Regions from separate parts of the Homo sapiens genome. Here region 2 is linked to region 1. Evidence: fine-mapped expression QTL. Tissue or cell type: whole blood. Region 1 holds a variant in brackets; the other region holds the start of a gene. All regions are shown on one strand. Distances are between the middles of the regions.

The links. PIP is the estimated chance that this variant, and not a neighbour inherited with it, causes the effect.
Region 2: LINC01934 starts here. The variant in region 1 is fine-mapped to the expression of LINC01934 in whole blood (INTERVAL, PIP above 0.99).

Annotation. Positions count from the first base shown.
Region 1 is chr2:181,230,516-181,235,804 of GRCh38, forward strand. All of the region lies in intron 2 of LINC01934 (long intergenic non-protein coding RNA 1934), which reads left to right. Among named protein-coding and RNA genes, the nearest start is that of MIR4437, 72 kb to the right of the region's middle. The variant T/A (reference allele first, on the strand shown) is at 2,752.
Region 2 is chr2:181,121,838-181,127,126 of GRCh38, forward strand. It overlaps LINC01934 (long intergenic non-protein coding RNA 1934), which reads left to right and starts at 2,000. Exons shown (of 5, transcript NR_130784.1): 1 at 2,000-2,143. RefSeq lists an enhancer at 2,267-2,366.

The DNA of each region.
Region 1 (5,289 bases):
TTTTCTTGAAATGGCTTAATTACCATGACCTCCTTAATAAAACAAAGTTGACAGTAATGGAGAGTAAAATGGTACTAAGAACAGGCATGATGTTAAAGGAGGCTACCTGAGGGTGGAAAAGTGACTGAGAATAGAGACTGATTCTGATAATTCTATATCATGTGTCAGTCAATGCTTTCTATTTAGAATATTGATACCATACATAGCATAGGGTTTGATTGTTGTTGAAGCATATTGAGGATAATCTCTTTATATTTGAAAACTGTCTTGGAAGTAATTTTGTAGAAATATTCTGATATGGAACTGATGTCATAGGTACATACATCAGACTGCCTAGAATAATAATATGGAATCAGCAACTAGGAACACTATAGACCCAGGAGGATAAGGTAGTTTATATAGGCTTCCATTTGGGGGATATATCATGAGCATGTTGTCAAAACCAGATGTGGTTCTGAATTACCTGATCAATTCAGTCTGAAGAAGAGTTAAGTAGGTACCTGCCTCTTACTACCTTCACACCCCAAGCCTCTACCCCAATTTGGGGGAACTCTATGTCTTGAGACTACCATAAAAATTATTATTTGGTATGTTTACATGTAAAGATTCTTGAGACTCAAAAATTCCTAAACTAGCAATAAAATAATTTTTATTCTTTGTCAAAAACTTTGAAGTATTGTTACAGCTCTGGTTCCTCAGACCTTTGGATGAAGAAGGTTTAAAAGGAATGAATATCTGGAATAGTAGGGTTGAAAGCAAGATAGGATGGAGAAAGATCTCACACTGTGAAGCAGACCTGGCAAAGCCTTGGCCAACCCAGTAGGTGTCTCTAGAGAGAATATTGCTGATGAGTCAGGATGGCTGGGCTTTTGTGCAGGCTGCCTCAGACAGGGTGAGACTGCAAACAAGGTGGCTCCCTGCACTAAAGCAGATCCCAAAGGAGTCCCATGTTAGAGGCTGCCTCCTGACAGCTCTCCCTGCAGCTGCACGGGGGGTGAGGGCAGCACATCTCCAGGTCTACCACACATCTTTTCATTTTCTTGATGACTTAGTCACCTACCTGATAGGTTTCCACATAGATGAATATTAACTTTTTGGGTTTCTTTATCATTTTATTATGTTTCCTTATTTCCCCAAAGTGTTAGTGCTTATAACTTCTACCACATAAGTCTTACATTAAGATTGGGGGCTTAGTTCCAATTATCTGACTCTACGTCTTTGACCAGCTGTTTAGCCCAGGGTACATGTATTAACCTCCCTAAACTTCAGCCTCCTCATTTGTGAGTTGTTGGATGATTAAATGAGGAATATATACAAATCCATTGGCTTAGCATCTAGTATATTGTACGTACCCAATAAGTGTTATTATTAAAGAGTCTGAGAAATTTTCTAAATGCACTGGTCAATATTAGAAGAAGAAACTAACTCCCAAATATATCTGCCTATTAGGCATCATGGCAGCAGAACAAAAACTATGTTAAAATAATTAAATAAATGCAAGGCAAGGGGTGAGAGAAAACACCATCTGGCAGCTCTCAGTGAGTCATTTAGGAGTGAGTTGGAAGATAATGAAGGCCATTGCATTCTGGTCATGGATGGGTCCTTCTGCTTGGCTGGTGTTATAGCCTTTCTCCGAATAAAAATAGCCCATGCATCCTTTACTGCAGCTCAGTAAACACAGATTATGTGAATAAAAATAAAAGAATGCACAACAAAATCTTTGGGGAGATTTGACACAGTTTATTTTGTTTCTTAGTGTACCCGTGAATTTCAGCACAATCAACAGTTTAATCTGAACAGCAAGGAATTTGTTTTTTGGCTGTTTGAAGTAAGTTTTATACTGTTTTTCTAGCAGAACTGACCATATGAAATACTCATCAGAGCCAGGAAAACAATCTTCAGATTTAAAGCTGTATGGTGGCTGGAGTGCAGTACTACACATAGAATCATAACAAAAACTCTGATTTGGGTTTAGCCACTTACTACCTGGGAGGACATTGAGTATTCCCTAAGCCTTAGTTTCTCTTTAACAAAATGATTATGGTAAATAAATCTTGTAATACTTAAATGAGATCAGATGAGAAAGGAGTATAATGTTCTTTTAAAAATGCTTTGTAAATATTAGTTTATTATGAGTAAAGGTAAAATGCTGCTTTTGAAGGACAGTTTCATCTTGTGATTTTAAGATTGAACTTAAAAAAAAAAAAGACTAAACTGACTACCAGTTCCTAGCCAGGCAAAGTTACCTAAATTGGGGGAATTTATTTGGGGAAATAAATTTTGGTGCCTTGGCTTTCTTATCTGTATAACTGAGATGACAGTAATATATGACCTCACAGAGTTTTTGCTGAGATGCAGTGAGATGGTCTGGATCCAACACTTGAGTACAGTTCCTGCCACGGAATGATGATTTGGCTGCTATTGTTATATTTTAATACAAGGGTAAATAGGAGTCTTTCTTTTGTGTTTTGCACTGTTGGCGATTCTGGAATGGTTTACTAATATTTTTACTTTAATCCTGGAGTTATACAGTGATACCTTCTAACACACAGCTGGCACTTTGGAGAGATTACAATGACAAAAAATAAAAGATGGGGACAGACCCTTGAAAAGGGAATGGAAGAATAGTTCTAGGTTTTATTTTGTCTTGTTTTAAAAGATATTTCTATTGCTAAATTAACTTTATTTTTAAAAGCATGGATTAAAGAAGTATTAGTAAACGATAAAAGAAAATGCACAGGTGTGAGGGTT[T/A]TGAGCCTGAGCTCATAGTCTCCCCCCTGTCAAACATAACTGTCTATGGACATTGAATAAATCATTTAATATCATTGGCTCCAAAAGAGATGGATAAACAAGATTTGTGCTTCTCAAGCTTGACCACATATTAGAATAACCAGGAGTACTTTTGCAAAACAGTATATCTGGCTCCACCGGGTCCACCTCAGAGCAATTGAATTATAATTTCTCTGGTGAAGAACCAGTCTGCAAGCTCATCAGTTGTTTAGGGTACACAGTGAGGGTTATGGACCACCTGACTGGGTGATCATTAGGGTCTCTTCCAGCTCTGAAATCTTGTATATCTGTACATATCTTTTTACTACAGTCACATACATAAAAAGTACTTCTTAAAATGAAAACATATGTGGCATATTTAGAGAAGGTAAAGGAATTTGATTTAAGCTATTGGCTTCTGGAAATAAGCAAGTGATTTTCTTGAAGCTTATTGTAAACTATCAACCTCTCTTGCCTTAAGCGAGATGTAATGATTATACTTCAACCTACAGGCTGTATATTTGACTCAGCTATCCCCTTTTCAGTTTATCTCTGTTTTTTATGTGAAGAGTTCTGCCATTTTAGTAGCATGGATCTAATGGAGGCAAAATTCTTAATGCGATATTTAAAAACCATAAATAAGGCCTCACTTATGGACTACAGGAAGTGAGAAAATATTTCCAGAGAGGGATTTTCTCACCCACTGATCTTAGCATAAAGCATCAGCCTGAAAAAATGTTTTTTTAAATAGAAATATTCAATGATAAACACCAATAATTTCCATTTATATCATTAAAACGATGGAAGGAACATATGGCTACGATTAGAAGAATGAACGTTAGTTATGAGGCTGCATTTGCAAGAGACATTAATTAGAACTGAGAGTACCTCAAGTACTTGACTCAGGAAACAAATTGGTTTAATAAGCTGCATGGTCTGCAGATGCCCTTCCCTCTTCTTTTTCCGTGATTCCAAATAAAGCAGTTTTATCTGTGCAGAGCTAAGTACACTTGAGGAGTCACATGATTTTGTGCTTCACTTCATTTATGTTTGGAAGCAAGTTGACATGACCCTCATATGGGTAAGGTATCTCTTACAGCAATATACATCCAGGTGAGGGCATAGTCATGTTAAATCAGGATCAGATTTTAAACTTTCTATTCAGAGACTTGCCCTTAAAGAGAACTCCATTCATTTGAATACTACAATTGAGTTGCTGATGTGCTGTCTCAACTCCTGGAGACGCTCTGCTCTGGGGTGTACTTGAGTGGAGGACACTCCACATGCCCTGTCTTGTGCTTGTATCAGCTCCTGCTGCTTCCTTTGATCAGCAGTTGATAAAATCTCCCCTGAGGTTTGTGTAGCTGATGAAAGCCATGTATCTGGGATAAGCCTTTGGAATTTGATTTTTGGCATTATCATAATGTTAATATCCATTAGTACATTTTACAACATAAGCACAAGGCCTTAGATGCAGGGAATTCTCTGGTGAATACCAACTGGGGCAGCTGACATGTGGGTTATGTGGAACCCTCAAAAGCATATACTGTATCACTTTCTTAAGCTAAGAGAGCTGTAATGACTCTCTTGGGACAAATAAACATTTTGTGTGGAATCTCCACTTGCTTAATTGCTAGCCTTGAGTTTTAGAGTCCTTGCTACCCTAAGTAAACTTATTTTAATAAAAGTAAACATTTTCAGCTGTTTTTGGCTCTTGGTGAGGAGGCAAAGGTCAAATGGGAATTGAGGAAGAGCTTGATCACTCAGTAAGGCAACATTTGAAGAGTGAAATAGAAAGGTGGGATATGTAGAGAAGAAGACCAGGGTAAAAGCAAGGTTCTGGAGACAGGCTTCCTGGCTTTTAGCTTACTGCTTGCTTGCTGTAAATCTCAAGGAAGCTACTAAACTCTCTGTGCCTCAGTTTCCTCATCTATAAAATGGGTTTAATGACCAAATGAGTTAATACTTGTGATTAGCATAGTGCCTGCACATCAGAAGCAGTCAATAAGTGTTACTGTTCATAAGCAGAGCCCTGTGCTCGTAGTACCTTTACTATCAAGTGGCTATCTTTCTTTAGAACCAGGTCAATTTTATGAGCCTAATTTAAGATTCTTTTACTTTCCTGAGGCTGGTGCCAAATGGTTTTGTGATGCTAGAGGAGTGTGAACCTCAAATACCAAACCGTCCTTGCTTATAAAGTGTAGAATAATTTAATGCCGCTTATAGGTATGTTGGAGAAAAAAATAAGGACACCCTTGTAAATATTTTCAGCTCCACTGGGTGCAGCAGAATCAGAAGGTGGTATGTATAATAATTCAGCTTATCAGTCAAAACTTCAAAAAAAAATTAACTCCATGACGTGGGACATTTTCTAGTAGATAAATCTTTTACTGTTTAGATCTCCGAATCACAATAAGAAATGCTATTGAAGTATAACTGATTCCCAGATTGTGTCAATACAAGTATTTAGTTTCCGCCATTTATTAAAAACAAAACAAAAACTCGTTCACTTATTTATTT
Region 2 (5,289 bases), 110 kb before region 1:
GGGGAGATGCTCTGCTTCTCTTATTGTGGTTGTCCATGGATCTCTTGCTTTTCCCCTTTTATTTGAGCATTTTGAATTGCCACCAATATTGGCAACTGCAACTGTGCCTCTTTGGTTTGTATGTCCAAGGCCAATGATATAATAGCTATATCCTTCGAACCTGCCCAGACATACCTAGAGAAAACATTTTCAGGTATCTCTAGGTAGGTGTGAGCTAGGAGGAAGGTTAGTTAGGAGCAGAGACCAAAAAGAGATATAATGAATGCAACTCTATGAATCACAAGGGAAAAAGTCTCTAATTGCAGAAGGAGCAGTAACAGTTTTAAGCTGGAGAGCCTGGGTTGGTGCCCAAAGCATTTCTTTGTTTGCCAAAAGCTGCCTCAATGTGGTATTTCCATCAACACCTATTTGTTGAGAGCCTACTCTGTGCCAGACACTATTATACAGGCTGTAATTTTCTATTGGCTCTAAGCCATTCTGATACATAAAAATATAGTTTCCTCAAAAGAGATTAGTATTTTATAATCTAGTTCAGCTTCATGTGTTAGCACTTAGTCTGAATATTTGCCATTGTGAAAATATGCAATATCTATGTATTTTTCAGACATGAGCCAAAGTATTGAAGTGCTTCATACTTAATTGTTCTTCAAAGTGTTCAATCTTTAACCAAAATATTTCTCAAGAAGTATTTCATGGATATACTTGTTATTTATTTTTGTTCTCTGAAAGAAATGCCTCCTGATGTTAAAAATCATTTTGCTAATATCTCAGTCTTATTCCTTTTTAGAGTCCTCTACACTCTATCAATATAGAACTAGCTACAGTTACCAGAAAGTGCTATATTGTTTTGTGCCTCTGGATCTTTGAATATGCTAGACTCCCAGCTGGGAATGCACTTCCTTGCATGAAAAATGACCACACAATATTCTTTACCACAGTTCAAGAATCAACTCCTTTGATCAGCTCTTTTACGCTAATTAGAATGCCCGTTTCCCCACTTGAGGCCCAATGTATTCTATATAAATTCCTATTGTTGTAATTCTCACATAATATTCATAATTATTTGTCCAGTTTTCTTTTCCCATCTTGTGATTTCCCATAAAATCATAAGATTTTATGAACTTATTGAGGACAGAGATTATGTCTTATTTGTGGTTATATCCTCAGGGCACAAAAAAGAGAAACTCAATATATGTTCAGTAAATTCATTGAATGAATAAATGAATCAATGAACAAACAAGCAAATGCCATATGCATGCATATATTCAACTCCTAGGAACACATTTTACTGGTATTTTATATCTTATATTTATTTATAATATATAAATATTTTATATATTATATATAAATAAATACAAATATTTATTTATATATAATATATAATATAATATATTTATTTATATATAATATATAATTTATAATTATATAAATATATAATATATTTATATATAATATATAATTTTATTATATATTAATTATATATATAATAAATATATATAATATATAATTTTATTATATATTAATTATATATATAATAAATATATATAATATATAATAATATTATATACATTATATATAAATATAAATATTTATATAATATATAATATAATATATTTATTTATATATAAATATATAATATATAATTATATAAATATATAATATATTTATATATAACATATAATATAATATAATAAATATATAAATAAATATAAGATAATAAATATAAGATAAGACCCTTTTCTGAAGATACTTCTAAGAAGTATCAGCAATACATTCTATGGGATGCGTATAATGGTTCCTGGATAATATAAAGAAAGAAGGCTTTCCTTTCTCAAAAAGGCAGTCTGTTATAAAAGTCTTTGTAAGTTGAAAACATTTTTTTTGAAAAGCAGAACCCTGTAGTTAAAGAAAATTCAGCAGCCTAAATTCTTTACTACATGTGTGGGTATAGTGAAAACATTTAGCTATCTGATATTACACTATCGTTGACTTCTCAGTTTTAGTATTCAGAGAATGACCTGAACTTAGCTGTGTTAAGTTGCCTGCTCCACAGGAAACCACCTCTGTAACTGTTGCTTGCTGCTTTCTCTTTAGGCAACACCCAAAGCCACTGTCAGATGTCATGGAGATGAGACCTCACAAGGTAAGTGCAAAGAAAACAGGAACAAATACATTTTCAAACAGAACTTGGTGAAAACATTGGCCCAAGAATGATAGGAAGCACCGCCTTTTGGGGATCCCTATTTGGGCTGTGGAAGGGACATATAGCCCTGTTTTATATGGAATCATATATGGTGTGAGGGAAATGAGTCAGATCCTGGGTTCCCAAGTGGCCTATCTGAGACAGAAGCAGGTTATGTTGTCTAGACAAAAGGAAATGCTTTGTTTTTTGAGGGAATGTTATCAGAATTTTAAAAGCCAAATGATGGCTAGAGAATATAACTAAAATTTTATTGACACTTTGTTTTTTAGAAGGCTTTTTCCCTCTTTCTTTTTGTTTCATTCTAACAGTCTATCTTTTTGCCCAAGATGCAAATTGAAACTTAATTAAATCCATGATTCCAAAGAGATATAGGCCTTATTACACAGCAGGCATTCTCTGGCTTTTCTTCACATCTGGAGTTTTAAACTTTGGGGTATTAATATCATGTCTAAGATTTCTTGTAGTCTTGGTTTGCTAAATAGAGGATACATGGCTATTTTAAATGAGGGTTTCATAATCACCCAAAAATGCTACAAATTTCAACGTGAAATAGCTTTTTCCTACATTGTAAATATTAGATGATTAAGCATTCCTTATGCCTTTTGCATGAAAAGGCAACATAGACTTTATTAGATATCTGCGGTTCTCATTCTTTGAGTATTTGCCTCCCTATTGACCTTCAGGCCTTTTGTGCTTCTTTAAAGCCGTTTCCATCCCCCCTACTTCCTCCTTCACAGAATGTAAGATGTCAGTGGAAGAAGATGAAACCAGAGGTTTTAAGAAAAGATTGGACAATAATAACTAAAACAAGTTCCTTTAGCTTTTATTTTTACCCATTTTATGTATTTTTATTGATATAAATTGCTTTATTATGATTATAGTTGAAAGTCAACATTTTGGCATATTAAAAAGACCATTTCCTTCCAACCTAGAAAATTCTATCTCATGATGATACATGTTAGGCCTCTTAGCAACTTATTCTGTCCTATAGCTGTGTGTGGCCACTGCCAATTTGTAGTCCCCAGTTCTAGTCCTGTCAACTATTTCTCCAGAGGTAACTGGACCAGAGATTATACCAGAATTTTATTTTATTTTTCTCAGATGGAGATTTTTTTTCACTGTGAAACTGTCTGGTTTCCCACTGATGGGTCTAATATACAGAGCTTTCTGGGTTTGACAGATGTGATAAACTAACAAGAATATTTGCATTTGTGTAGCTTTTATATACAGATATTTCACTCTCCTAATACTTTTTCAAGTTATAGATAAATGTTTTTTAAAAGCAAACTGAAACGGCTGACAAACAGCTGCTGCATAGACTTTGGAACCTGGCTGCCTATGTTTGTAGACTGCTCATAGAAATGTGAGTTCTGATAGCCTTTTTGGAGATGAATCTAGCAATATATGTGGATATTTATTGTGGCATTTGCTGAAGTTCCTTCTATAGCCTACCAGGCACTGCATCACCTGGACCTTGGGCAAGATATATGTCTGGTCCCTTTTCCTGCCCTTCTGTCACTCTGCATTTACTGTAGTGGCATTCACAAGTGTTCCCAGTCTCGCTGAGTATCTCTCCCTCAGAACTCGGGTGCTTGCTGCTTGCTGTTCCTTCTGACTGGATTGCTCCTCTCTTAACAGGCCTCATGGCTTACTCCCTCAAGTCATTCAGGTTTCTGATCAAATACCTCCTCAGAGAGCTCTTCCCTGGCTACCCCATTTAAAGTAATAAGAAATTTCCTGTAACTTTGTATCCCCTTGTTTAGCTTCATAAAAATATAACATTATGTTACATATTAAATTAGTGCCTGTCCCCTCCACTAGAATGGATTCTTTAGGAAAGTGGGAACTTTGTTTTGTTCATTGCTCTATTCCTGGAGTTGAACAGGCGCATAGAGTGTATTAAGACTTGTTGCATGAATAATTTGTGGTAGCAAATGAACGAAAAGATAAAGCAAATAGAATATCCTTTGGTAAGAGAATGGTTAGATAAATTGTGGCATATCAATAATATGATGAAGTCATCAAGAAGAATAGAATTAGATCAATGTCATCCAGGGAGTTTCAAAGTTTATTATTAAGGAAGAAGTGGAGGTGCAGAAAAGTTTGTATAATAGGACCCTGAGCAGTGATCTACATATATATGTATCTATCCATCTATTTAATCTATCTATCATCACATAAGAATGATTCATATAGTAGGATATTCACCAGGTCATAAGCATTAGCTTTGTAGGGAAATTGTGCAGTGTGATTTTGTTGAACAGGGTATGGAAACGGAGACTAGAGGGCTCAAAGTTGGCTGAAATATGTAAAATGATTGCCAATTTGGGATACAGCTTCACTTGCTTTTGCTAAATACACTTCAGAGCAACTTCAGTCATATCTTTCTCCCCTTGCCACCCACACTGTGACTTAGTGTCAAACTCTGACCCATGGTTGCTGTCTTGGCCTCCCTTAATTACTCTCCTTCGGAATTCCGTGTTGGTGCTCAGTGCTTCCATGCTGAAGTACAAGTTCCAGGCAGTCAACTTGTCTTGTCTTTGACTACTACTTAGAACCTCTTTGCATTCCTTGAAAAAAGGCATTTGTCTCTTACTGATGTGTTTTGCTCGTGTTTCTCATGCAATGAGTCCTTGATGTTCTTACAGCTGTTGCTGATCACTTTTTGGGGGGTTTTGAGGAAAAACTATGAAATTGATTCTAGACAATTTAGGCTTTTGTGGTTCACTGGGGCCCATAAAACTACTGAGCTGGGGAAGTGTGATTGGGAGAATAATGATATTTATTCAACGATAATGTGCTTCACATACATAAAGAGAACTCTGCACAGCCCCCGATAGAAAGTTACGGAAACATTCTCAAGTTAGAAACAGTAAATGTTTTGAAAATAAAGTGGCACTGTCTTAGAAATGCAAGAAGGCAGAAGCAAAATATTAGATTTGATAATTAAGAATATAATTAATGATGAGAAACCCCATATTTTAGAGTAAGACTATATCCCATTTATCATGGCTTTCAGTCATTTGAAAATTTATGTTCGTTAGTTTGATTGTATTTTCCACCAGCTCTAAGGAGGAGCTGGAAGG